Linked DNA regions of Homo sapiens: all the other regions are linked to region 6. Evidence: fine-mapped expression QTL. A gene starts in region 6. Each other region holds a variant in brackets. All regions are shown on one strand. Distances are from middle to middle.

Region 1 (4,067 bases), 130 kb after region 6:
TTCATTGCAAATATAACATGATCACATTCTTCCTAGATTTAACCCTTAGGAAGCCCAATGATTTGAGTCTTAACAACACACAGTTGTCAATAGACAACCAGAGGCTTCTGGAGGTACAAGCTGAATGTCAAGTCTCAGAAATTTTCACAAATACGTTTAGGCAATGTATTAAATTCAGAATAAGTGAAGCACATTTAATGATACATGTTGCAGAATCTCTACAGTTGACTTTTTAAGTTAAGGTAATGAACAGTCAGAAAAATGCATACAGTTTTATAGGTAGTCGTTACCCACTTGTCACCTGTCAGTGTCAGCACTGATAAATCAGCAGGTGGGGCTTCTCAAGGTCAGAGGGATGCCCATGCCTCCTCTGTTGGCTGGCCCAAAATGATGAAAGGCACATCCGGTGGAACCGTTTTACATATACACAAGTATTTTATAGAGTCAGAAGGTTTGTGTTGGGGGAAGAAGGGAAGAGCAACAGTTGTCCAGGGTGGTTCAAGGAATCTTCCCAGAGGAGGTGGGATTTGAACAGGGTCTTTAGGATGAACAGGGCTTGATAGTGAGAGAGCAGATGGAATTGCAGGCTGGAGCCAAAGTCACACAGACGGGAGTTTAAGGCATTGTGAGTCCCCTAGTCTGGCTGTAGCCTACAGCTGGAGTTGGGAGGAGGTGAGAGAAAGTGTAGGAAGACAGTATATGTGATGATAAAAATTCACCATTGTTAAGAATAGATACAGAGAATCAGATTATCAATTGTAGTAAAGGCATATACTCAGGTATAGGTTTCTACCTTTTCCTATTTTTCCATTACATATAATGCATGCTTATTGGAAAGTATAAAAAAGTTTAATCTTCCAAAACCAACCAGTCAAAGATAATTGTGTTAATATTTTGGAATATTAATATTCAGCCCCTGTTTCTAAGTGTGGGTTTTGTTTTATTTTTAACTGAAGTGTAATCATACTTTATATAAAATTTTGTATCTTTCCTTTTTACATAATGCTAAATCATAAGCAATTTTACATGTTGCTATAAACTCTTTGTAACCATCAAAATTCCTTTAAATGTATACAGCATAATTTAACATTTTTTTTGTCAATGTGCCTTTAAGTTTTTAATGATTTGCTAGTAGTATTAATATGCTATAAACTTAGGCCAAAAGTTCCCCTTACCCACTCATATTTGGAATTATCTTCTCAGAATCAATTCCCTGAAGTAGAAAACCCAGGCCAGGGATTATGGTTCCAAATGCACATTGTCAAATTGTGAAGCTTGCATTGAAGGTAACTTTGGATGAGATATTTCTTCTGAATAAACTCTTAGAAAAGTGGTCTATCTTTGGCCACTTGAACATAGCCAGTGTCTTTATTAAGACTAATACATATTAATGTGGAAGAAATAGATCAATTAAGACAAAAATGTCCAACAGAAAAACACAAATAGATTCTCTTAATATTTAAATGCATGCTATGTAAACTGCCTTAGGCCATTATTTTAATAGCATAGTAACTCCCAGTTGGGAAAGGTAAAATAATTACCATGAAAAAAAGGTCTTTGTCCTACACTTTGAATTAAAAATAATGCACTCGATTGACTTTTGTATAGTCCTCTGCATGTGAGCGTATTTATCTGTATTGATTGAAAATTGTAAAAGACTTTTTTCTACCTCAAACAATCTAGTAGGCAAAAGCTACAATAAACATAATTTTAGTACAAATACAGGACAAGAATATACAAACAAATAATTCTGATAACCTTTAAGGACTCAGAAACCTGAGGGCAGTAGTATATTTGATCTAGGTTTGGCAAAATTCCTGGAATAGCAAAAACCTATTGATGTTTTCAAGAAACCTTTTAAGCCTTTGCAAGGCTCATCAAAACAAACATGATCAAAGTCCTAAAAGCATACCATATAAAATATGGAAGCAAATCAGAAAAGTAGCATACTACATAAAATATCAAGTTCATTTCAGATCAGGTTCATAAACCAGGTTCCCTAAACATAGTTTTGTTTTCTTTTATCATCAAGTTGCCCTAGTACAGATGATGGTTTCAATTAGATATGCCAACAGTATTCTAAAAGGCCAAAGAAATAAGTAGCATGATATATTAAGTTCTAAAATTTGATTTCACTCATATTTTCCTCCCTTCCCCTTTCTGTATTTTTCTAATTTCCAAGAATGTGTATAAGAAGAAAAAAAAACCCACAATAATGAGCTGATGGAGGCTCACGCATACTTTAGAAACCTGGCATTTCTACCTGGAGGTCACAGTTTTTTTATTCAAAGTAACTTGAAAGGTTTAGACATACTTGCAACATCTGCAAGTACAATGAGAAGGAATCAAATGTTCTTGTGTTCTTTTATTGACTAGGAACTTAAACTGTGGACATAATTTTTTTTGGAAGTACGACGAGGATTGTAGCTCACCCTCAGGACAGATTTTCACAGTATCTCTTC[G/A]AGAAAGGGGAAATGTTCAGCTGAAGATGACACAGCTACAACAGCCCCTTGATTAAAGCTTTCAGTCAGACTGGGGTTAATCACTCTAAGATCAGCCTGTTTTGAGAGAAATCTCCAAGTATCTCAATCCCATCTGCTTCCCTTATGTGAGGCTCCAGATTCTGGAAGTGTTGGGTTTTGCAGCCATGAAACAGAAACAGCCGAAGTGTGGGAAGGTAGTCAGTCATGACTCGCTGTGCTAGGACACAGGCTCACCCTGGGCACTTGCCCAAGATAATAAGAGGACTCCACTGCTTACCTGTTTTCTTGCCTCTATCTCTACCTAACATGGAAACACTACAAATCTCTGCTTTCTGCCCCTTAGGACTTTCAAAATGGTGGGCTGCATTTTAAAGCAAATCTCTTCCAAACAAAGACAGAACTTTCAATACATGACTGTCTTATCGCATAAACCTAAAGGGATTATTGAGACCTGTCAGTTTCCTTCTTTTTTTCTACAGTGAGGCTCCTCCCAGGATGCAGACTGGCAGCCTGCATTTACCAAGGGTGCATTTACCAAGAACAGAAGGAAGGACGGAGCAGAAGGCAGCCTAAGATGTTCCCGTGTGTTTGGCTAGAAGTGAGGAAAACCTGTTCCATGTGATTTAATATCTATGTATTAAGTGTTTTTATTTTAAAATTTCATAAGTAAAATGCCTTAGGTGACTGACTGTTTGCAAATCCCATAAATAATTGATCTATTATTATCTGGTAATGTCATTGCTTCTTCTTACTCAAGTAGCCATTTGGAGAACTATTTCTCCCTAATTATCATTAGGAGGTTAACCTCAGTGATCTTACCATATTTTTAAAGAAGAAGCATGTGGGAACCTTTATGAAGATATAGAACAGAGAAAACTCTGAGAGGATGTGGTTCATGCAACAACTGTTCTCAGGTTATGAAAGCAAACGCATATGCAAGCAAAAACAGCGGGTGAAAGGCAAGACAGCGAAAGGGTTTTCTTGTCTGATTTTGGGTTGTGGGGTAGGAGTAAAGCCATTCCATTCTTATCTCATTTGTTTAGGGTGCTTCAGCACAGGAATCCAGAGGCAGGGATGCCCAAGATTTGAAGTATGTTCTGAAGACAAAGGAAGGTTTGTGGATTTCTCCTATAAGAGACTATTCCAGGCTCAGGCAAGGGTAAGAACAAACATTTATCAAATGCTGTGTGCCAAGTGAGTCACATCAGTTATCTTATTGAATACTAACAACAACCCTTTGATGAGCTCCCATTACTCCCATTTCACAGATGAGGAAACTGGCAGCTCTGGGATAGGAACTCTCTGGTTAACCACTTGCACTACTGTCTGCTGCCCTCTGAGGAAAGAGTCCTTGCTTACCTTCCCCTTAAAGTAAAGGCAATTCTCTAAAAAGAGCCATTCTGATCATGTCATTTTTCTAGTTATACACAGTGCCTCCCCATTCTTCTAGGAACAAATCCAAACTCCTTACCACTGCTTCAAAGTCTCTTCAGAACATCACCTCTGCCTGCCTCTCCAGCCTCAGTGGCTCCCTTCTTCCTTTTTAGCTTCTCAAATATGCCAAACGCTTTTGTTTTGGAGGTT
Region 2 (4,067 bases), 160 kb before region 6:
GAAACAAATTTATGTAATCATGGGTTAATTTCTCAATGGCTGACTGTAAAAAAAATCATATGACTTTATTAATGATCCAGTAATACCAAGAGAAGACTAAAATCATTGGGTACAAACAAAAACATTCCTTATTTACCTAGTTCATAAAATATCTTGGGGGCATTTATATCCAACGTCTATTTAGAATAAATCTCATTGTCCAAAGCAGTGTAGGTGGTTTGTAATTATTTAAAGGACCAGAAATTTTTAAAAATTTTTTATTTTGGAGACCAGGTCTCATTCTGTCGTGCAGGCTGGAGTGCAGTAATGCTATCATAACTCTCCACAGCCTTGAACTCCTGAGCTCAAGAGATTCTTCCATCTCAGCCTCCCAGGTGGCTGGGACTCAGGCACACACCACCACACCCAGCTAATTTATTTTATTTTTTGTAGAGATGGGGTCTTTGTGGCCCAGGCTGGTCTTGAAATCCTGGCCTCCTGCCTTGGCCTCTCAAAGTGCTGGGATTACAGGGATGAGGCCAAGAAAGAAGACATTTTAAAGATGTTGAACCTCAGACTAAGCAATAAATAAAACAATTTTTCAAACGCCGCCAGAGTATAGTACTGAGAAGTGGATGTTCTGTTGTACAGAATGCAGGTGCCACTCTGAATAACAGTGAGCAAAGCAGCACAGCACATAACACCAGACTTTCAGGAAGGCTAGAATCTCACTAAAAGGTTGATTGCATTATAAGAACATTTCTTTGGATATGTGTCCAACATCCCCTCTGCCAATGAAACACAAATCTGAAAGGAAAGGAAGACAATTTAAATGATGATTTTTTGGATACTCAGCAGGCACAGTTCAGATTTTCTAAGAACTGATTGCAGAGAGAGTAAAAAAGTACCAACCTGAGAAAATTAGATGCATTTTATTTTAAAGCAAAATAAAAACTGTTGACAGCTGACAATGTAATGAACACTTATTGGGTGTTCAGTCCTACTTCTTACACTCTACTCCTCCACACGAGGGCTTGCAGGCTCAGAGAAGAAGGGAGCCATGGTCAGGCTTAAAGGGAGGGACAAACACAAAGGAAAAGAATGGGTGGGGGCCGCGTGCGGTGGCTCACATCTGTAATCTCAGCACTTTGGGATGCTGAGGTGGGCGGATCATGAGGTCAGAAGTTCGAGACCAGCCTGACCAACATGGTGAAGCCCTGTCTCTACTAAAAATACAAAAATTAGCCAGGTGTGGTGTAGCCTGCGCCTATAATTCCAGCTACTCAGGAGGCTGAGGCAGGAGAATCGCTTGAATCCGGGAGGCGGAGGTTGCAGTGAGCCAAGATCGCACCATTGCACTTCAGCCTGAGCGGCACAGTGAGACTCCAGCTCAAAAAAAAAAAAAAAAAAAAAAAAAGGTGGATATACTGCTCCACTGTCCAGTTTGATCACCTACCATTTAAGGACTGAGAGACTCTTGGAGAAAGTACACAACAATTGTGCCTTCCTCAGTGAAAGCACAAAGAATAAAGGAAGGATGCATTCTTACCATCAGGCTGTGTGTGAGAAACACTTCTGACAAGGACCAGGAGGACTCCTCCAGCGTGGAGCTACTCATCCCCAAAGGCCCAGCTTGGAGCATTACTTATCTTAATTGAGAGTCTATGCAGGGCCCTCCTAGAGTAAGTGCACATGACCCTTTCCCTTTATCTTTCCCTCTCATATAAACTTGTTGGAAATCCCCATGCTCTGGCTGAGTTTAGTGGTCACCTGTTGGCTGAGCCCCCACTGGGTAGCCATTCTTACATACAGCCCCAGCCTTGGCAGTAAGGGGGAGGGGTCCGCATTCCACACTTTGGAGACTGCCCCTCTGTGAATGACTGTCTTTAGAATGACTGAGTGCAGACTCACTCAGGAGTTTGAGGGCAGTGTTAGGTCCCCCAACAGATGCAGGCTACTCCTTCATTTGGAGCTCTGGGCAGACCCTCTGCAGAGGTCATAAAAAGAGAACATTACACTGACTCCACTCTAGTGGGTCAAATAATTTTTTTTTTACTTTTAAGTGGCTGCTTCCAACAGGGCTTTTTCTCTCTGCATATTCCTTGGCTTCTCTGCAAGCTTAGACCCCTGTCCCCTGTCCCTGCCTTTTTTTTTTTTTTTTTTTTTTTT[TA/A]GACAGGGTCTCACTCTATTGCCCAGGCTGTAGTGCAGTGGTGCAATCATAGTTCATGGCAGCCTCAACCTCCTGGGCTCAAGCGATCCTCCCACCTCAACCTCCCAGGTAGCTGGGACCACCACAGGTGTGCACCACATGCCTGGCTAATTTTTGCATTTTTTGCAGAGGCAAGGTTTCGCCATGTTGCCCAGTCTGGTCTTGAACTCCTGGTTTCAAGTGAGTTGCCCACCTTGACCTCCCAAAGTGCTGGGATTACAGGCTTGAGCCACAGTGCCTGGCCCTTAGACCCTTTCGACCACCGATTCTATCTTAAAGCTTTTCCAACGTTTGACTTTTGTAACAGCATTCTCTCCTCATTTCCTACTTTGTGGACAGATATTCCTGTCTTCCTCTTCACTTTCCTGGCCACACACATCCTTTCTGCCAAAGACAGAAAGCTTCCTAGCTGGAAGAAGACTACTCTTGGGCAGGGTGTAGAGGTGCCTGTGCTTTCCTTTGCTTTATTATTATTTTTTAATGAGGTGAAATTCACATACCACAAAATTAACCATTTTAAAGTGGGCAATTGAATGGCATTTAGCACATTCACGATGTTGTGCAACCAGTACCTCTATCTAGTTCCAAAACATTTTCATCACCCCCAAAGGGGGCTCTACTCCCATTAGGCAGTCAAGAACCCTTGCCTCCTCCCCCTAGCAGCTGGCAATCACTGATTGCTTTCTGTCTCTATGGATTCGCCTATTCAGGATGTCTCATACAATATGTGACCTTTGTGTCTGGCTTCTTTCATTTAGCATCATGTTCAAGGCTCATCTATGCTGCCACACATATCAGTGTGGAGTCCTAATAAGTAAGCAACAACGAGGAGGGGGTCCCAGGTGGGGGATAACAGTTGTTCTGAGAGACGGCTAATCACAGACAATCACAACAACCTGTTCCCAAATACCTCATTCTGCAAGTAACTCCAGAAGCATGACCTCGTCTGCACACCCTATCTGGACGTAGCCCCTCCAGTATGATCCCATAAAACTTCCCTCAAGCCCCTGCCTCTTGGCAGACAGCCCCTTCTCTGCTGTGCTGCCCATTGCACCCTTGCAACACATCTTCACACTTTCTCTAATAAATCTGCCTTTCTTTACCTACGACTGTCTTGGTAAATTCTTTTACTGCCTGCGACAGCGGCCCCAGCCAGTCCGTCCACAACAATCAATACTTCATTGTGCTTTCCTTCTTGAGCCTGAGAACAGCCCTCTTACCTGTGACATCTTCCCCTTCTCTCCATTCGCGTTTTTGCTACACTGCAGTGCTTATTATTCTCCACATTTATACCCTCCTGTTTTTTCAAAACCCAGCCTTGCCTTTTTAATACATTTTAAAACTTCCAGAAGCAAAGTGTAAACCTGTCAATTCTCAATACTCCCAACAGCTGGTCAAATTCCAGCTCTTTCCCCCCAGCCTGAAGTTGTAAGCTGTCCAGGATCCGGCCCCACCTTCCTTCCACTTCAGGTGCCATGCGTTCTACTCATCACCCGTGTTCTGCAGACGGAGCTGCTTATGCTACGTAGGTCGGGACTCCTCTTTTCTGTTCCTCCACATTCTCTTCCATTTCTCTTAACTCTTTGTTCTCTCTGTCTAGATTAATGTTCTTTCCTTTCCTGGTCTACATTCCAAAATCTGTCATTCCTCCAAGATCCGGCTCAAGGGCCACCCACTCTGTGAAGTTTACCCTCTCCATCTCCCACCATGGCCTCTCCCAAGTCCGGGTAATGAATTGGTCCTTTCCTCCCAGTTGCCAAGGGGATGCTGTGTGCACGTTTAATCTTTTCTCTGAGATGTAAATTCCTTAACCACAGGTTTCTTTGAATCTTCATAGGCCCAGTCTCACAATTAGTAGACATTCACTGAATTTTTTGAA
Region 3 (4,067 bases), 150 kb before region 6:
TTTGTTGGTACCTGGTTTTTACATCCCACAATCAAGCCTCAGCAGTCAAGCAATTTCTGACATTTTCTCAGAGACCTAGAGTCTTCCTCAGAGTCTCAGCCAACATGAGGACTGTTGGATTATTAATGAAAATTCCAAAGCAACCACTTAGTAACCAGATCATGTATTATGCCTGTTCTCAAGGGGGAATTTCTAAGTGTTGAAAGATCTCATTTGCACAATATTTTAAAAACCAAATGTTAGCACTCACGGATGAAGAAGGACATGGGAAATTGGTACGGTCCTAAGAAACCCAGGCTGCAGAGTTGCTCTAACTAAAACAGATTAAAATACCTCCCTGTGAGGTTCACAAGTACAAATGAAGATGCCTCCAGAGGACTTCAGCCTGCACCATTTTCAGAGCCAAAGAACTACTTACTGTCTTCAATATATGCCCCATGGCCATCTAAATAATAAATGCTTACATAATTTTTAGAAGTCTGTGTGTCCTATAAGTCAAATTAGAGTTTGGTACAGCTATTAGCTTTAACTAGCCTAACTTGCCCCCCAAAAATGAATTGCTTATGAGATAATATGGCAAATTGTCACTCATCTTCTGTTACAAATATTTTCTTGTGAGTGAGTTTCAAAAAAAAGTTGAGTTTGGTTGCTTTTACTGTTAGTATAAAAATCATAGGGTAGGTGAGTTAACCTTTCTAACTTACAGGTATTTTGTACCCACATGCTCAAAATTCTGCTAGGAAAGGCACAGCCCCTGCCTTCAAGGAGCTTTCAATTTAACTGGGACTAATACAGTTATAAATTATACCTGGGGGATTCCAAGGTCACCTGAATCTCGGTTTACTTAATGCCTAACATAGTGCCTGGCATACGGTATCTGGTAAATTTTTGTTGAGTCATTTTAAAGAATGAATAAAATTAAAGGGTGCATTTACTGGAATGCTAAGTTCTCTGGTATAGAGTTCAATGTCTATGGGTATACCATAGACAGATGTATTCACAAAGGGATTCATAAAATAAGATGGGAGAATGGAGGGCAGCACGGCTTGAGCTGGGTCCTTCAGGGCAAGAAGAGAGGTGATTCCGGGTAAAGAGAAGCAACAAGGCAAAACCTGGCATGGCGGGAGAGGGAGGGACAGGAGGGAAGGATGGGAATGGAAGGCAGTGAGTTCATGTTGGAGGAAAAAGGGTAAATGAGGCAGACAGGGTGGGAAGGCAAGCGGAAAAACCCACTAGCTGAAATGGATATGAATGTTTAGGTTTGAGTATTTATAGACAAGTTGTCAGGACATAAAGTACACACTGAAATCGATCCTGTTCTGCGTATACTCTGCTACCTGCATGTGCTTCCCTTCCCTCCAGGGTTGCCCTTGCCTCCTCGGAAACACTTGAGGTGGGTAGGAGTCATCACACACATTCACTTGCTTTAATAATGGGGAAAGGAGAAAGATTTGAGGAACAGAATCTAAAGCTGAACTGGATCAAAGAAAAATAGGTGACAATTTTGTCTCTTCACAGGGCAGCTGGACACAGCTGCAGAATCATGCCATTCCCTTCTCCCATCACAGAAGCAAATGTGAAATA[C/T]GAAACTTTTTTGGTTCGTTCAAGAAACAACAGTCTGAGTTACAGAAATATTTTCCTGCATCAAGGCTCACCTTTATAGAAACTGGGTTGGGGGGAGGGGATGTGTAGTGTTATTTTTATAAAATTCCTAAATGTTGTACTAAACAAAATTGAGAAAGAAGTATTTTTTTGAATAGAATAGAAGTTGTAAATGAAATAACTAATCACAACCAGAATCTTTGGTTTTAATGTTGAAAGGAGAGGGGGTTGGTTGCACACTGAGGATGGTTCTCCAATACGATGCCTAGGGAAAGGCACTGGCTTCAGCTGGACGCTCACTCCAGCAGGATTCTTTGCACAATGCTAGCAAAGATCAGTGAGAGGAAGGCTGGAGCCAGGCACTGCTTCATGACAGCTTGAATTTGGCAAGACGGGGGATAAGAGTTAATGATCTCCAGCCACAGAGTGGCTTACCATTTCCTTTATGTTTTCTGTACCTTGTTAACATATCAGTGTATCTGCTGTAGGATGAGTTCTAAGCCTTTCTTTCTTTAGGGAATAAAAAAAAAATCCACCCCATGACTGTCCCATCACTTTACAAATTTATTATTTACACTCCCACTGACTTTAGGAGAGAAAAGCTAACACTTGTTTGCATGCGTGTGACAACGATTCCTTCAAAGGATGTTGGGAATCCAATCTAACAGGGATCTTATATACACAGCAACACGTAACAAAGGGATTTACTGTCAAAACGTTTATTGCAAAATGGAGTCTTAGAACAAAGGAAAGCAAAGAAAAGTTCACATCAAAATGAAATGTATGACACCAACTTGGATTTCTGAATACACTGTGGACTTTGTGCTGGAATATCAAATTCCAACTATAAAATCAGTAACTGAAATAGTCTTACCACACAAGAGTAAAATTTAATCTTCCATACAAACATTATACAAGATATTTGGCATAGGACTTGCTCAGAATAACATTGCAATAGAATAATTGAGAAAAAGTTTTTGTTAAAAAAACAATAAAGTGATAATGCCATCTATTCAAAGCTCACACTCAAAGAATATAAATATTTTCTATTATTTAGTACAAAAATTTTAAGAGTGCAAAAGCAATATGTGCAGTGTATCATATCTGACATTAAAAGATATACTATTCTGCACACAATATAAAATAATTAATGTAGGTGCTTGGAACTCTAGTTTTGAAGTAAATAATCACATGCCAGAAAGCTCCTCACAGGCAACAGAGTGCAAACAAAGGTGGAGTCTGAGAAAACACGGCTAGTCTTCTAGATTTCCTGATGGATACTCATTTTTCATCATAGAAATGCTGTATCTAGAGCTGTCAGGCTATGCTACAATCGAGAGGAGAGAATAGATTTTTATGTCTGGCGATGCTTAACACTTAAACAGGAAAACAGTCTTACTCAAAAGCAGCAAAAGGTGCCTGATTATAGAAAATTTATGCTCTGTTATATATGTGGTATGATGAAACTCTGCTACTTTCAAAAGGCTGCAATAAGTCTAGTACAATAATTTTTTAAAGTATTAATATTTAACTCAGAATAAGTTTTAAAACTGTCTTTCATAAAACTCTTACCATTCCAATGAAAACTCTGAAAAATAAAGTTGTACGCACAGTAATTCTGGGAGGTCATTCTGGATCACTCCTAAACCCTCCCCCGACCCCTAATTCCTTGATTTTTAATGGGGATCAAGTTTGACTACCTTAGCTGGTGTTTAAAAGTCTAACAAATTCACTGCACGTTAAAAATCACTGGTTAAAAACCCACCCTCAACATTTCCAGAGCACCAAAAACAGTGAGCTGTAGGCTTTCAACGTCTTTTCACTGGTTATGTAAAATAGTAAAATGTAATTTTGCTTTCAAAAATGAGTAGAAAAAGGAGGCTTTAAATTAACCTATAGAACTGTAGCTATCTCAATGAGTTTTTTTTCTTTTTTTTTTTTAATTGTGGAATCAGTGTAATGGGAAAGTGACCTGCCCTGGTGCATTTGGCTGTTTCATCAAGTTGCCACCAGCATTTCTAAGGAGAAAGAAACCATTTTTAGGGAAATGGTGATTTAAGATAAAGCCACGAAACTCACAAAATTCAGGTCGTATGCTGCCGTAATTCTAAAAATACATTTTGTTTTGACTTGGGTAATTTTGTTCAGGAGAAAAATAATTAGAGACGAAACTCTAAAGCTTCTGGATTTGATAAGTTTGTCAGTGGGGAAGGGACAATGCTACCGGGTTGTTTTTTTTTGTTTTTTTTTTTTTTTGAGATGAAGTCTCACTCTGTCATCCAGGCTGGAGTGTAGTGGTGCAATCTCAGCTCACTGCAACCTCTGCCTCCCGGGTTCAAGTGATTCTCCTGCCTCAGCCTCCCTAGTAGCTGGGGTTACTGGCATGTGACACCACACCCAGCCAATTTTTGTATTTTTAGTAGCAACAGGGTTTCACCATGTTGGCCAGGCTGGTCTCGAACCCC
Region 4 (4,067 bases), 30 kb after region 6:
TAAAACATTTTTTAAAAAGCATGTATTCAACCAAATGGACAGATTATAATTGATTTGACCTTTTAAAATTTGGTCACTAAGTGATCATCTTAACTTCTTTGTAAAGTTTTGGTTGCAATAAAGACTTAAAAGGGAATCTTTTGTGCTGAGCTCAATTAAAAACAAAAGAAAAGAGAAAAGAAAATGGACAGAAACAGAGACTCCTATCCCCTGGGGAAAAACACTGATGAGACCTACGCTCCATTTCTTAGCCAGAATGTCACGGTATTTGAACAATAGCTGGCACTCCTGGTCACTATGTATGTTTCAGGACACTTTACTGCTCAGGCTCTAAAGGGGGTCCTGTGGAGATAATAGATTAATTACAACACTAGCAGAAAATTGATAAGGCTCCACCCAGGGAAAGAGACTCCCCGATCTCTGAGCAGCTATGTAATTCTAGTCAACCCTTTCTTCTCTCACGGACCCTTGGCTTGCCAAAGTATAAGAAAATGACTTTGAGAAAGCTTACATAGTGTAAAAAAAAATCATAGATGAGTCAAGGCCTTACAAATATATTATCTGCAAGCATCATAATACCTCACTGAATACTACTGCTTTGAGGACTCTAGCAAGCCTGAAGTGACATGTACCTGCATTGGATAATTTCGCACACAAAGAGGCAATTGGAAAAGTTAGAACTTCACTTCATCAAAGATCGTGAAAACTGACACATCCATCTGTTGATCAGCATGAGAAACATATCACAAATCCCTCCCAGAAAATGTAACGTACAATGTATAATTAGCCCTTGATATATGGAGCCGTGAAATAAATAGTAACTATGATAACTTCCCTGCTAATTTACTTTTAAGTTGTTTTTTCACTTCTCTAAAGGCTTTGCATCTGAAGGGCACAAGTATATTCCATGTAGAATTATTGTAATTCTTCAGATATTGAATGGAGTGTAATTACCGAAAACCCTGGGAAATGCTGCCAGTATGCCCCTCTGAAGAATAATAAAACAATTAGCAGGGGTCAGAAACCTCTTCCTATACCATTTTGTAGGGAGTAATTGTTCTGCTTTTTAGTTTTGAAAGCTAAAACATTTCATTCTGACTTTGGTTTTATGCTACTCTTTAAAGCTATACTCTGAGACTTCATAATTTTTAGCTCATGTAGTTTAAAATGTGAGAACAATTGTTTAAATCAGTAATTTCCAGCCCTGAAGTTCATTCTACCTTTCTAAATCTTTGATTAATTTTAACAATGGTTTTAATTTTGACGTATCCTTTTTAATTGTTCTCAAAGATAACTTCAGTTTAACTTCGAAATCCAAATCTGGCTTCACAGCGAGGTCCATTCTTTTCCTTTGTGAGGTCCGGACAATAATGTTTAATGGTGTGAACCCACAGTGATGATGTGTGAATCTAACTAGCATTCCCGGTCAATGCATAGTTACAAATGCTTTCACAAGGCCAAAGAAGGGTTAACTTAATATTTTAACTTCACCTCCTTTTGCACCCATTAACACATGTAATATTAAGCAGTTACTGACAACTACACCCAACTACAAGGCACTCTCCTGAGTTGCTGAAAGAGACTTCAGGAGTCACCTCCTTGAACCATCTCCAGAGTGCATAATGCTTTTTCTACAGCCTGCCTATAAACAGTGGCTCTCCCACTGTTTGAATGCATCCAGCAATGAGTAACTCATTACCTCCAAAAATAGCCTGTTTCATTGTTAGACATCTCTGATTATTAAAACTTATCATTTTGAGTTAAAGTCTTTCTCCTTTTACTTTTCGCTCATTTATCCTTGGAGCTCATAATGCATTTGCATAAGACTCCCACGGGCACCATGACAGTTTACAAATGCCACGGCAATGACCCAACAGCAAACATGTTTAATTTCTTTTTAACAGGACAAGTCTTCAAATACTTGGATATAACTGTTATGGATATCTTCACACCCCCAGATCTTTTCTTGTTCAGCCTAAATATTCTCAATTTCTTCAACAATTCTTCATAAGACAGTTTTGGTTCTCTTCCAAACCGTCTCTAGTATGGTGCCCTAGACTAAACAAATTGTAAAGTGCAGAGAAATTATGATCTTTCTTCTTTCCTTGATCTAGATGATGCTATACTGGGCCTACAGTTAAAAAGAAGTCATGCCACTGACATCTGTTGAAGTATTCATGAATTAAACCTCTCAGCCTCCTTTGCTGAGCTGCTGTGGATGCAGCTTTCTGCTCTGTGCACGTACAGTTGATTTCTTGGACCAGAGTGGAGGATTTTAAAAACTAAAACCATCTAGTTAGAGTCTATCTTTCCACAAACTTCAGCCTATGTTATTTTTGACGGTAGACAGCTGTTTATTCATTGGTGCTCGCAGTCTAGCCTGGCAGAAACAAAGGTTAAAGAGATATAGGGTTCATTATCCAACTGCTGCAGCAGGGGTGAAACCAAAAATTACACCCTACGCTTCATGGTCCTGCCAGAGCAGGTTGGCCTGCCTGGAGCTGGCCAGGCAACTTTCTATAACGCCAGGCCGGAGT[G/T]GGGGAGTGTCTGATTACTCCAAAGCACAGATTCTCATCTTTTTTTCCCCAGTAGCCAGCCTGAGGTTTATGACACATTCCCTTGAGCAAATAGCTCATTAAGACAGCAACTGGTAATTCAGGAGTAAATGTGGGGCAAACATGCCCCACATTAGAGCGCCTCCTTTAGAAGGCGCTCCGGATCCGTGTAGGGGAACAAATTGAACCCCCCTGTCGCCACGCTTAAACTGATGTTTCTTGGGACTAATCCTAAGTACAGGTCTTCGGAGCTTATGTGCAAAAATGAATATGTTCCTACAGTTCGTGGCCTACAGGGCTTAGAGATGGGCCCAACTGAAAGCTGATGAATTCCCCTCAGGACATGCACTCGAGGAGGGAAGTGCAGAAAGGAAAAATGATGTGGTGAGTGAAGAACTCTGTGACTATGTCACGCGTCTATTTTTCTTTAGAGCTGAAAACAGAGGGGCACAGAAGTAGATGTCCTTCCTGGGGCCTGCGTTGCAGAGTGGAGGTAGAAGATCAGCAGGATTTGTTTTCCCAGCCTTGGTCACCACCCTGCTGATGTAGCAAAGAAACCAGCCCAAACCAGCTAGGACTAGGAATTATAATGCATTTGCATAAGACAATACTCACCCCCCCTCCCGCCCCCCGGCGCCATGACAGTTTACAAATGCCACGGCAATGACCGGGAAGCTACCTTAGATGGTTCCAGGAACTCCTGGCCCCTTTTCCAGAAAGTTTGTGAAAAACCCGCTCCTTAGTTAGCATGTAACTAGAGTAGGTATAAATAGAGCCGGCCAGCACTCTGTGAGTGCTACTCTGTGCTACCCTGCCTATAAGACAGCGCTGCTCGGTCTACAGAGCACTTGTTTTCCTGTATACTGTTCCTCTCATGAACTTGCTGTCTTTCATTGTCAGCTCGCTCTTAAATTCCTTCCTTAGGAAAGCCAAGAACTCTCTCCAGCTGAGCCCCAATTTAGGGGTCAGCCTGCATCAGAGTGACCAGTACAAAGACAGCATCCAGAGGAAGGGGTGACCACTGTCTGCACCTCGGCCTGGCACAAGCCAGAGGCTCTGAGGCCGGCATCCCAAACACAAATTTCCCTCAAGCTCTGATGCAGGGAATTTCCCTTGAGTCCGCTGAGGTGTCAGAGGTACCTTGTTCTCAGACTGGGCCTTTGCGGCCTGGCTCTTGGCAGGCGTCACCCTTCTGTGGTGTCCTCCCCTCAGGAGCAGGCCAGCCAAGTTCCACTTTCACTCCTATAAAGACATGACATAGCCTACCAGGACTTTGTGGCTGCCCCCACCTTCCTAGCCAGCTTGCACTGACTCTTGTGCCCTAGTCCAAGTTCCCCCTTTGCTCTCCCACTGCGGAAGAGAAGACTTCATTCTTCAAGTTCTGACCGGCAGGCCCTCCAGGCCACGCCACCTCATTGGTACCACTCTAGGACCTCCCGCTCCCAGACAGCGGCCACAATAGCCTTCCTCTTAGCCTATTATTCTGCCTCTGCTCAGATCCCTCAGGAAGCG
Region 5 (4,067 bases), 190 kb before region 6:
TTCCAACTCACCACAGCCTCTGAAAGACCCATGCTCTCTTTGGATTGCTTGGTACCTGCAGCACGTTTCCATGCCTGGGAGGTATTGTAGCCATTTCATCAATTAATTCTCAGAGCTTAGTCTTATTTCCCTTATTGTCAAGTTCTTGGGCAGCACTGCACTGTACTCACAGAGCACCTGCAAGGGAGTGGGTTTGTCAGGGTGAAGTAACGGTGCAAGAGAGTGTGTGATAAAGGGCCTTGGAGAGGAGCAGAATGGAGAAGTGGCTGGAGCTGTGGGGGAGGTCTCCAGGGAGGCAGGACTTCAGCAGGACCCTGAAAGCTGAGTAAGTTTCATCAGGGTGGTGGTAGGCAAGGAGTTTCTCTGGTAGATTTGAGTAATGGGACATTGGTTATAGAAACTGAATCTTGATTTTAGTGTTGAATGAACTATGAGGTTATAAATCTTTTTCATTCTGTAACTCTGTTGGTTCGGTCATGCATTATTTGGTCAGCTGGTACACTAAAGCCTTGACAGTTTTGACCCTCCATTTGGCACTTTTTCCACTTTAGCAATCTCATAAGCCGGTTCCAATAACAGCAAATAGTAAGAAGCTGAGTCCAGGTCTTTCGCTCTAATTTCCCCAGGGCACCCCAGCTTCACTGTAGTTTCTCAGATCCAATGATGGCAAGAGAGTTGATACACCTCCTAAGTGCAGTCTCTATAATTTAAAATTTCAGGGAGGTTACATCCTGAACAAGGTGGCACAGCTACATCATGACATCTTAAAATTGAGTAGTTTCTGAGAACCAGAGTTGTAGAAGCATACCACATCTGTACCAACTTGTTGAAGTAAAAGGATAAATTGTAGAGAAGGTACTTAAAAAGCTTATCAAATATAAAATATTTTGGTACAACTGAATTGGAAAAGTTGCAGTTAAGTCAGAATGCCTTGAGGTGTATCCAGGATGTTTTGACCCTGCCATTTTGAACTATTGGAGATTCTGACCCTACTGTTTTGATCCTGGAGACATTTTGACTTTACTTATACATGAAACATTTTGATCGGAATTATATAAATATTGAGAAATGTTTTTGTCAAGAAAGCATTTCATGGAATGAATGTCATGTCAATTTAATTTCCTGATTGGTTTCCTATCCAACATAATGCTGTTTCCCATTTGTGTATTATTTTTTTCAGGCAAGTTCCCACTCTGTCACCCAGGCTGGAGTGCAGTGGCATGATCTTGGCTCACTGCAGCCTTAGCCTCCTGGGCTTAAGAGCTCCTCCCATCTCAGCCTCCCCAGTAGCTGGGACTACAGACATGTGCCAGCACACCTCGCTAATTTTTGTATATTTTGTAGACACAGGGTCTTATTATGTTGCCCATGTTTCAAACTCCTGGGCTTATGGGATCCTCCTGCCTCAGCCTCCCAACGTGCTGGGATAACAGGTGTGAGCCACTGCACCTGGCCAGATTTTTTATTGTACTGATTTTTTTCCCATGGAATCGATTATTTTCAATTTTAATTTTACAATGAAGATTTGCATATCAATTTTTTGTTGTTATTCATACTGCTCGTTACCAATTATAGCTTCTGCCACTGTGAGTTTTCGTTTATAGTTACTGTTTCTTACCTAATTTTCCCAGGTCAGATTTTACTGTTCTGAATTTTACTGTAAATAGTTTTAAATATTATACTTTTTATTTTTATGAGCAATATTCATTATAAATTGGCTGAAAACAATTGCTAATTGTATTTCTTTCAGAAGTAGTCCTTGATTAAAAAAAAAATCTCCAGTTCTCCTA[G/A]ACAGATTTGGGATTATCCAGTTATTCAGCCTAGGTCCATGGTATTGCTAATGTGGTGACTGTGCAAAGAGCTAAACATCCTGCTTTGTCTGGGCCTTGCCTGGACTAAAGACTGCCTCGATGGTAGCAACCAGTGTAGACTTGGCACTTCCAAACTAGCTCTGAAGCCTATTTAGGGAAAATCTCCACATTTAGAGGTTCCCTGTCCAAGATATACTCTTTCGATTTGGTTCTACTGTAATTTTTTTCTCCTAATCCTAGAATAATATCCCTTTCCTTTTTATTTTCTTCTTCTTTTTTTTGGTCTTAACCACCTCACTCCTTGCAACTAATAGTTTCTCATTGTTGGCTACTAATTTATTTTTATGGGGAAAAAAAAATCCTGTTAATCCCTGCTTTGCTCTTGACTTACATTGATCTTTCAACCTGGCAAGTGACTTTTGGTGAATAAGCATCATTAGGAAAAGAAAAAAATAGAACATCCAACTTATTATTTCTTTACAGTCAAGAAGCAGACTGCAGATGTTCTTACTCTGATTTTGTCTGGGAGCATTGATGCTGACAAGTATTTTTCCATGAGATATTACAAAGTGGTCAGTTTTGTGGGCTGGTGGAATAACCTCTTTGCAGTCACTGACTGCACTAAATAGGGCTGAGATCATTGAGTTATTTTATTACCAGCTTGGATTCCCTACCCCATAACCGAAGAAAGCAAGATGGAAGAAAGTGGCATGAAACTAGCAACGATCTGCATAGTGCCTTTTAAACTAGACTCTTCAGCAATTCCCCAGAATGCAAATTTTGTTTCACAATGAAGGCCATACTTTGTGTTCCTTTCAGAGTGACTCGGTCAAGACTGTTCATCTATTTATCCAAAAATTCCGATCACAGAAAATATTTTATTGCTTATTTAGAAACAGCATGATATTAAGATAGCATATTTTGCATTAGTCTACTTTAAATGAAGGACAAAAAGCAAAAATAATTGAAAACAGGCTGTGCTTGATAGCTTCATGAGAAAGAATCATGGTGGAGCTGAAAACCTTAGAAGTTGGTTACACATGATGGAAAAGAGGCCCTCACTAACTGACTACACCATTCCCATTGCTTTTGCTTGTAAATACATCTGGCACCCAGTAAAACTTTATAAAATCAAGTTGTTGAATCAATGTTTAGGTGATGACAACTTCCCTTGTAAATAAAGGTCATTTCCTATAATTTTGACTTTAGTATTGATTGATTGATTGATTGATTGAGACAGGGTCTTGGTCTGTTGCCCAGACTGCAGTGCAGTCACGTCTCACTACAGCCTTGACCTGCCAGGCTCAAGTGATCTTCCTGCCTCAGTCTCCTGAGTGGCTGGGACTACAAGCAAATGCCACCATGCTCAACTAATTTTTGTATTTTTTTGTAGAGATGGTGTCTCCCTATCTGACCCAGATAGGCTGGTGACCCAGGCTGGCCTTGAACTCCTGGGCTCAAGCAATCCTCCTGCCTCAGTCTCCCAAAGTGTTGGGATTACAGGCGTGAGCCACCATGCCCCACCCACGTTGACTTTAATGCTACCGAAATACAGTTTTCCCCACCAGGCCTCAAGTAATGTATCACACACAGCAGGGGAGCTACCCTGAGAACAAATGCATGTACTCTGATGACCAGCTTCTTTTAAAAAAGAATTCAAACCCACAGAATTAGAAGAGTGTCCTCTGGATTTCTACAGAGCACTGAGAATCCTATGTAGGGCTTAGTGAATGCTAAACAGGGTTAGTGAATGCTGAACAGAATCTCAGAATATTGAAAGTAACATTTATTGATTTGACATACAATAAGTTTGTTGCTACCTGACTTTTTGGTTTGTAAAACATGAAGCATTTCACAAGTTGGATCCCACCATTTCTGCCCTAAGCTGCAGACAGTCTCCTTGCACCCCCACTGGTTTACCTCTTTGCCCACAGCTGCTCAGAGCTGTCTTGCTGCAAGGCTGATATTTACTGTCTTACTCCAACAAGGATGTTGGTAATTTTAAATTTCTCTGGCTTTTAGCTTGTGATGTTATTGTCTTGCTCTGTGTCTGTTTTCTTTTAGATTTTAGATTTCTGACATCCCAAGAGGCCTTTATGGAGTGTTGTTTTATCCTCTTTGCTCCTTTGGTGAAATTTAGAAAATAGTATTTGAAAGCAGTCGCTGGGAACTTAGGAAGAGAAAGAACCACAAATCTAGGCAATTTAAATCTTTGGTTTCTGATAAATCGTAATGAATGAGATATGCATCATATTC
Region 6 (4,067 bases):
GCCATCACTTTTTTTTTTTTTTTTTTTTGGAAAATTGAAAAACAAGTGAAATTTCACTGTGGAGATAGGCCTACTACAAAGAGGACATTAACTAGCCTTGAATCACTTGTTTATTTTTGTCTTTAAACGTGTTTGGAGGTTTGGATCCACTAAATCCTAGCTGTTCATTTCAACGAAGGTCGAGGAAGCAAGAAGGCTCTTCCAAAACAGCTTCGGGGTTAAAGAAGGAGTACAGTTTTCAACAATCTTAAGTCAAACATCCTCAAATTCACTCTGTAAGACGATTCTCACACACCAGTATCGAGAGCTGCTTACTGTACCATACTTGGAATGGGCCCCTAAATTGTGTTGCTTTCATTATTACAGAAACTAACAAAAATAGTAATTAAGTTCCCCATAAACAGTACTTATGCGCGATCTCAAAGCGCATCAGAAACATAACATTTTCAGCGATCTAACAGAGATAACTTTTTAAAAAAATTTTTTAGGCAATCGGATGTCATCTAGCCAGTCCTGAATTAAAGTTTTCTGAAAGCTGTCATGGGCAAGCGAGGCCAGACGAGGCGACGGCCTGGGTAAGCACTTCTGGGCCTGGTGCAGGTCTGGGAGCCCACAAAAAGCCGCTGCCTGAGGGTCGCCAAAGGAGACATCCCCGGCTCCGGTGGGAGGAAAGGGGGAAGCCCGAGAGGGCGGGCGCTTCATGCTGCCCAAGCCCGGGGCAGGAAGGGCGGGGAGCGGTGGCTCTGGATACATTTACGCATGTTTTTAAAACTAATCTTTAGTGTTCATTGTTCCTGCTGGTTATTCGCATGGCCTAATTGTGTGAGGAAAACAGAATGAAGGAAAATGGATGGGAAGCAACACCGCTCGCGGTCGAGTTCTTAGAAAAGCAGAAGTTCGTCGTCCCTCCTCGCACGCACAGCGAGTGCTGGGAAGTGGCCTGCACCCTACCCTGATTTGGGGGCCTCGCGGTTCGCCTCCCGACAGTGCCCCAGTCACCCGCTGCTTGGCCGGCTCTGCTGCTCGCGGAGCCCCTGCCCGTGCCGCACGCCCGGGACCGCGAAAGCCGGGGCCGCTCCGGCCTGCGCCCGCGCCTCCAGGCGCCAACTTCTCCATGGGACCGGCCCGAACTCTCCCGAACCGCACTTGGCGGCGCCGCGGCCAAGGTCCCGCGAGGACTTCCCGGGCGCCGCGAACGCTCGCTCGCTCGCCCGCCCGCTCGCTCCGGCCGCCGCCGCCGGGCGGGCCCTGGGTCGGGGAGGGGAGCCCCGAGGAGCCTCCCGAGGCCGCCTAGACTCCCGGGCTCCGGCGGAGCCTCGGCCCCGAGACGCAGGGACGACTCGCGAGCGCGGCGGGCCTCGCCCCCTCCCTCCCCGCCCTCCGCGGGCTCCAGCCTGACCCCTACCTGGCTCCCGGGCGGGGCGTGAGCAGCAGCCGGGGGCGCGGAGGCCCCGCGCGCGACGAGGGCGGCGGGGGTTGGGACGACAGCGGCCCGCGCGGCTCCCACGTTTCCGCTGCAGTTAGGAGTTGAACATTCCGCCTCTCTGCACGGCGCCAATGAGGAAGACAGTCACGGCAACAGCACCACCTACCTCCCGGCGCGAAACGGCTGGGCCGCCCTCCCCTCACACGCGCGGGCGAGCGGGGCGTGGGGAAGGCGCTCGGGCCTCCCTGGCCTGCGCCCGGGGGGCACCATCCGCCCCGCGCCCCGGCACCCGCCGAGGCCCCCAGACACACCTGCCTTGCTGTGGGGGGAGGGCCGTGGGGGTGTTCCCCCTCGCCCCCAGCACCTTAACTCATCTTTTTGACAAATTAACACCACCTGCTACTCCTTCAACTCAGTCTTCAACAAACAGGCGCTGGGGACGCAAAGAAATAGAGGCTGTTTTGTGCCCCGCAAGAGTTAATTCTCTAGTTGGGAAAGGCACAAACGTAGAGATTTCTGGGAACATAGGTCTGAAGGCTGCCTCTCTAGAAAGATCAGTAGGTACCTCTGGAATTTTGAGGAGGGGCCGTGGTCTGCTGCTCTAGTTGCTAATTTTAACAGAGCAGAATTCAGAAGAGGAGCCAGAGTCCGTTACAGGCCTAAGCCAAAGGTGGAGGTGGGCGTTGGGAAGAAAAGAAATTTCTGATTGGGGAGGATGGTTCTGTGAAGGAAAAGTGAGAGGAGGTTGCAAGGGCATGGGCAACATTATTCAGGATTTTGAATTTGAATTTTATTATCCATGGACACTGGGAGCTGTGAAAAATTAGAATCAAAGGGGTGAAATGGGGGTTTGTGATTCTGTTTAAATGGTAATTTTGAGAGAGTAGTCCACAGTAGTTGTAGGTTGGGTTGCTAGGATGGAACCAGGATGAGTAGTAGATATTGTCACCACCCGGTTGTGGGATCATGAGGACCTGAGTTAGGATGTAGGAAATGGAATTAAAAAGAAGAAATGGGCTGGGCATGGTACCTGTAATCCCAGCACTTTGGGAGGCCAAGCTGAGAGGATTGCTTGAGACCTGGCTGGGTAACACAGTGAGACCTCATCTCCAAAAAAATCAGAAAATTAGCCTGATGTGGTGGCATACATCTATAGTCCCAGCTACTCGGGAGGCTGAGGTGGGAGAATCGCTTGAGCTGGGGAAGTCGAGGCTAAAGTGAACCACAGTCGCGCCACTGCACTCCAGCCTGGATGAAAGTGAGACTCTGTCTCAAAAAAAAAAAAAAAAAAAAAAAAAAAAAAAAAAGAAGAAATGGAATTGAGAGAAATATTAAACGTTTCAGCAAGAGGCCACAGAAATTGGTAACCCACAAGATTTAGAAGAGAAGAAGAAGAGAGATGATGCCAAGATCTCAGACCTGGATGACTGGAAGAATGATGGTGTCATTGACAAAAATAGGAATACGTGAAAGGGAAGCTGGCTTCATGTTGAGTTTGAGGTCATAGGAGTAAAAACAGGTAGAGATGCAGCAACTGAAATATGAAACTGAAATTCAGGAAAGAGGTCAAGAGTGAAATAGAAAATTTGTAAGTCATTCAATAGGTTAAAGATATGAAAGTTGAGGGATGAATGAGTAGAGGTTAAAAAACAATTTATTAGTCTGATTAATTTGCCCTTTGATAAGGACTGGAGATTTTAGCATTAATAAATTTTATTTTGGTAACTGAGAAATTAGAATTGATGAAAATTGCCATGCTAAAAAAATGTATAATGCAGGTCTAATAAAATAATTCAAATAATTCCATCCTATCCATTCAAGGAAAAACTAAGGCTCTTTAGCATAGACCCCAGGCATAGGAAGACTCCAGTCATTTTACCTTACCTTCAGAGGCACTTGTTTGTTTTGGAAAGGACCCTAGACTGAGAGTCAGAGAACCTGACTTCTGGTCTTAGAGCTACCAGTTATCAGCTAGAGTGCTTTGCAGGATAGGCCACAGTTTCCTCCTCTGTAAAATAAGAGGGACTAATTAGAAGTTAGTTGCAGGTTCCAGCTTTAAAACCATGAATGTATTGCTTTAAATTTGGAACACATGGCTTAAGAGCATCAATATTTTTAGCCACATTGCCCTTGCTTCCCATCCCTTTGCCTTCATTCTGTTTTCCTCACATAATTAGGCCAAGAGAATAACCAGCAGGAACAATGAACACTAAAGATTAGTTTCAGAAACATGCTTAAATGATAATCTAGTAGACATTTTCTTGTCTTCCCAAATAGGTTGCAAGCCCTTTGAGGTCACATCTTATATTGTGTGGTATCTGCATATGTATTGTCCATAGCTGAAATAAATATATAATGATTGTATGATAAACTGATTGCCTCAAGTTTGGTTTTTCTTTTGTCAAGCTGCCTGTTTCCTATTGATTATACTGATCTTTTTAGGCCCCAGACCTAATAAATATGGTCTAGTATGTATTCTCAACACCGACTGCTTTTTTGAACTTTCAAATCTTTTTTGAATTGGTTAATGCTCACCAGGCAGAGTTTAGGTTTACCCGTGTGAAAAGCAATAACAAAAGAGACCTAGTCAAACTTCTCTTATCAAACCTGCCTATTCCTTTACTTCAAATGTTTCCACACT
Region 7 (4,067 bases), 110 kb after region 6:
CCTTGGAGGGGTGTTGGGAGAAACAAGCAATTAGCAATGCAAATCTCTTTGAAAAAGTTCTGTGTAATGAGCATTAGCACTTCTCCAGAGCCTGTCATCTGAAGAGCTCCACATGCTTTCTGGCTTCCTGTATATTCACACATTAGTCCCCAAGATGCCCTTCTGTGGTGAGTTGGTCTGGATAAGCAAACTGCATACATTAGTTAGGAAATGCATAAGTATATACACTCACATATTTGGGAATACAGAAATTCCCCATGGGGTGAGAGAAGGGGGCAGGTATCCACAACATGATGGTTCAAGAGAGGAAATAGAATCTTGAAGTCCTAGTGATGGCTCAATCCCAAGGGATGATGGAACAAGGCAGGGAGTCACAGAGCAGCTGGCTGCCTGCAGCTGGGACTGAATCACTGGTGGCCTCCCTTCTCATACTAAGCACAGCACCACCTCTGGGGCACGGGCTAAGGAGCTCCTCTCTAGTTGAAATTGGAGGAGACTCATGGTTCTGTGCCACTTTGGGAACAATCTTGAAGTGGCGGGAGACATGAGATACAGAACTAGGTCTGCTACTTAGCTATGTGACTTTGGCCACATGGTTTCAACTCTCTGGTTCTCACTTTCTTTGCCGTAAAAAAAAAAAAAAAAAAAAAAATAGGAGGAGCAAATGATGGCCTCTAAAGCCTTTTCCAGTTGTAATAATTTTAATCTTAGACCTCTGAAATCTATCAGAGGAATTGTGGGATTCCTTGATTTGGGGTTGACCCTGACTTCAGAATATTTCACAGGGAGGGTGTACTGAGAAGGCCATTATATTTCCAGGACTGCCCTTATTACAGTCTATACCCGCACATTAGAGCTTCAGTGGGCACAGTCACCTACTTATAAATCATTCTGAACCAAACATAAGACCTTCCATTATATTTCTTTCCTAATTTGAGAATTGATTAATCGTAAAAATCATGTAAAAATACATAAAATCAATTTCATTTGGCTTTTAATTCAGTGATTACCTTTACAAAAAAAGAGTACACAGACTCGAGATGATCCCAGAGCGTCTGATGAGTCCTTACAAAGGGTTTAAGAATCTTGCAGTCAGAATACTGAACAAAGACACACAGTTGTGCTACTTGCAGCTGATGGAATCACAGGTATCCTTTCCATTAATGATCCCTAGACGATTTAGAATTGACAGCAGACCGCTAGTATAGTTATTTTGGGGGGTTATGCTGCACCAGGAGAGGCTTCAGCCCCCGAATACTGTGGCAATAATATAATGGAGTGAGAAGCAGGAGGGAGAGAGAGGATGGAACTGGAAAGTATAAGATCTGGGACAAGGAACTCAGACTGTCCTGCAGAAAAAAGAAATCATGCTTCTGGCTTCCAGTTGAGTCCTGTGGTTATTCCCAATAGGTCATTAATTTGTGTCACAGGGCATGGAACAGACATAACACCTATATTTCAGGGGTTTAAAATCTTAGTACAATGGAGCACAAAAGAGATTATGGTTTCTAACTTCTAGTTTCCATTATCTATCATCAAACATGACATATTTTAATAAATTTTCCCTAATGCAAGTCAATACTTGGCAAAGCACAATCACATCTTAAATTATGGAAAAAAGTAATACAATTTTGAAAAGAAAAAGTTCCTTTAACCATATGAGATCTTTGAGATCCCCTGAATGAATTTAAAAGGTTGAACTCTCTCTGAAGACATATGACACATTGATTTATTTATTTTAACCTTTACTTTTCTCAAAATTATAGCAGTATGTAGGGGGCCTGATATGGTTTGGCTTTGTGTCCCCCACAAATCTCATCTCAAATTGTAATTTCCATGTTTCAGGGGAAGGGCCTGGTGGGAGGTGATTGGATCACGGGGGCAAATTTTCCCCTTTTGCTTTTCTTGTGATAGTGAGTGAGTTCTCATGAGATCTGATCATTTAATAGTGTGTGGCACCACCCCCTTCTCTATCTCTCCTGCTCTGCCATGGTATGATGTGCCTGCTTCCCCTTTGCCCTCTGCCATGATTGTAGGTTTCCTGAGGCCTCTTAGTCATGCTTCCTGTTAAGCCTGTGGAACTGTGAGTCAATGAAACCATTTTTCTTCAAAAATTACCCAGTCTCAGATAGTTCTTTATAGCAGTGTGAAAACAGACTAATACAGGTC[G/C]ACAGACTAGAAAAGGAATCAACTTCTGGTGTTGGAGAACAGGACTTACAAATGTAAACATCCAAAATAGTAGTTAGTTAATATCAACATAAAAAGGGCTAAGTAATCAATCTGTCCTAAGAGATGGAATGTGTCTTAAGTGGAATATGCTACTGATGACACTAAGGCACTTTCTCAAGTCTCATCTCATTTCCAAAATTCGGTCAACAAGAGGCCAATCTAAATGTAATACACTGTCAATTTTGGTCTTCTAACATATTCATGCCAAATGCAAGCAGAAGAGTATTAGTTTGCATGGAGTATAGAAAAAATAATCAGAAGAGGAAGAATTTGCAATATATTTTTCTATCTCTGTCCTTGAGTAGGTTTGCTTTAAGGTGAACCCTGTAGATACTAGATCTAGATCACATTCAACTAACATTTATTGAGCACTTATTTATGCTCAAATTCCTGAACCAGAACCTTTGTAGATTCTATCATAGTTGGTAGAAGACATGCATCCTTCATGGTAACTTTGAAATTTGTATTCTAGTTTTTCAGTGTGTCTTATGAATTTGGTTCCTGTGAATCAAATGGGTTTTGACTCATGCCAATGCTGATGGGTTCTGAGGTCATGTCTAGGCTAAATGGGAAAGAGAGTCTCACTGATTGCTGAAAGAGGGCAGTCATGTCTGAGCCCTGGGTTTGGGAAGACAGAGTGAAGGTCTGTGTGCCACATATTGGCAATTCTAGTTCCTCAACACTTGCTGAATTGATCAAAAGTTGCTGAATTCTGAAAATCAAAAGTTAGGGATTAGACTCGAGTTCTTAACTGGCCCACCATGGTTCAGTCATCCCAGAAGGTTCAGCTAACCATGAAATCTCTGCCTTTATCTCTGTCATTTCTTAACTCCAGTGACAACTATAATTAGGAATCCATATTCTATATGAATATATATGTGATACAGAGTTGTGTATCCTACTGTATGCATGCTACGATGGAATCCTACATTAGAAAACAAGCTCTGTAAAGGACTTTGCATATTTTGTTCACTGCTGTATTCTTAGAGCTTGAAACACAATAGTGCCTGGCACACAGTAAGTGCTAAACTTGTGAATAAATCAATGACTGACTGAATGAAATGATCACTGAATCTGGAAATCAACCAACCTTGGTTTAAATCCTGGCCCTGCCACTCACTAGACTTGTGATTTGGACAAGCAAAACTAATTTCTCCAAGCCTCAGTTTTGTTATCTGAAAAATGGTCTACATGTCTAGCAGTGTTATGTGAATGAAATGAGCTAATATATCAAAAGGGACCTGGTACAGGTCTTTGAGTATAAATAAGTGTGCAGTCAATGTTGGTTGAATGTGATCTAAATCTAGTAGGCTTCCTAAAAGTCACTAGCAAAAAGAAATTACAAAAATTTTCTTCTCTTTGTTCATCACAACTAAACCAATATCCAAGCAACTTAGTTTAGGAGGTGCTAGGAATATTAAGGATAATTAAACAACTGCAGTTAAGCTGAGATGTAAGACAAGCCTAACCTTCCAGAACCTGAAGGCATTACAAAATGGGCTGCGCCCACATGGAAAACAGGGAGAAGCATTTTTGTTCCATTTTCACTAAACATGAATATGAGCGGGGCACAGCCTTTAGAATTAGCACACATACCTGTATGTCTTTAGGTGGTATTTTCTATCTCTTATCATGTGAGGTGCTCGAGAGAGAATGGCATTTCGTAAAATTTTTCCAGCTCTGAGGATCTTCTCTGAAGGGACCTGGATTGTAATCAGGTGGAAGGAGGGGAGGAGAAAGAAGTGTTTATAGAAGGAAAACAAACCAAACAAATCCTGAAACCACTTTCCAATCTGACTCTGGCTTGGAAAACATAACTCACTCAGTGCTTTACTTTG

What was found. PIP is the estimated chance that this variant, and not a neighbour inherited with it, causes the effect.
Region 1: its variant is the best candidate, but not a certain one, in a credible set for the expression of MAP3K20 in whole blood (INTERVAL, PIP 0.58).
Region 2: its variant is the best candidate, but not a certain one, in a credible set for the expression of MAP3K20 in monocytes (Fairfax 2014, PIP 0.84).
Region 3: its variant is the best candidate, but not a certain one, in a credible set for the expression of MAP3K20 in blood mononuclear cells (TOPMed, PIP 0.86).
Region 4: its variant is the best candidate, but not a certain one, in a credible set for the expression of MAP3K20 in sun-exposed skin (GTEx, PIP 0.80).
Region 5: its variant is the best candidate, but not a certain one, in a credible set for the expression of MAP3K20 in B cells (CEDAR, PIP 0.67).
Region 7: its variant is the best candidate, but not a certain one, in a credible set for the expression of MAP3K20 in whole blood (TOPMed, PIP 0.84).

The regions. Positions count from the first base shown.
Region 1 is chr2:172,943,114-172,947,180 of GRCh38, reverse strand. All of the region lies in intron 6 of RAPGEF4 (Rap guanine nucleotide exchange factor 4), which reads right to left. Among named protein-coding and RNA genes, the nearest start is that of MAP3K20, 130 kb to the left of the region's middle. The variant G/A (reference allele first, on the strand shown) is at 2,463.
Region 2 is chr2:173,234,349-173,238,415 of GRCh38, reverse strand. It overlaps MAP3K20 (mitogen-activated protein kinase kinase kinase 20), which reads right to left. Exons shown (of 20, transcript NM_016653.3): 15 at 1-43. The region is part of intron 2 of MAP3K20-AS1 (MAP3K20 antisense RNA 1); the gene reads left to right. Among named protein-coding and RNA genes, the nearest start is that of MAP3K20-AS1, 46 kb to the left of the region's middle. The variant TA/A (reference allele first, on the strand shown) is at 2,149.
Region 3 is chr2:173,225,385-173,229,451 of GRCh38, reverse strand. The region is part of intron 11 of MAP3K20 (mitogen-activated protein kinase kinase kinase 20); the gene reads right to left. The region is part of intron 2 of MAP3K20-AS1 (MAP3K20 antisense RNA 1); the gene reads left to right. Among named protein-coding and RNA genes, the nearest start is that of MAP3K20-AS1, 55 kb to the left of the region's middle. The variant C/T (reference allele first, on the strand shown) is at 1,585.
Region 4 is chr2:173,043,388-173,047,454 of GRCh38, reverse strand. All of the region lies in intron 29 of RAPGEF4 (Rap guanine nucleotide exchange factor 4), which reads right to left. Among named protein-coding and RNA genes, the nearest start is that of MAP3K20, 30 kb to the left of the region's middle. The variant G/T (reference allele first, on the strand shown) is at 2,538.
Region 5 is chr2:173,267,525-173,271,591 of GRCh38, reverse strand. It overlaps MAP3K20 (mitogen-activated protein kinase kinase kinase 20), which reads right to left. Exons shown (of 20, transcript NM_016653.3): 20 at 3,577-4,067. It overlaps MAP3K20-AS1 (MAP3K20 antisense RNA 1), which reads left to right. Exons shown (of 8, transcript NR_033882.1): 2 at 1-81. Among named protein-coding and RNA genes, the nearest start is that of MAP3K20-AS1, 12 kb to the left of the region's middle. The variant G/A (reference allele first, on the strand shown) is at 1,791.
Region 6 is chr2:173,073,341-173,077,407 of GRCh38, reverse strand. MAP3K20 (mitogen-activated protein kinase kinase kinase 20) reads right to left here and starts at 1,562. Exons shown (of 20, transcript NM_016653.3): 1 at 1,406-1,562. RefSeq lists silencers at 998-1,737, 1,818-1,867.
Region 7 is chr2:172,960,987-172,965,053 of GRCh38, reverse strand. It overlaps RAPGEF4 (Rap guanine nucleotide exchange factor 4), which reads right to left. Exons shown (of 31, transcript NM_007023.4): 8 at 3,826-3,932. Among named protein-coding and RNA genes, the nearest start is that of MAP3K20, 110 kb to the left of the region's middle. The variant G/C (reference allele first, on the strand shown) is at 2,170.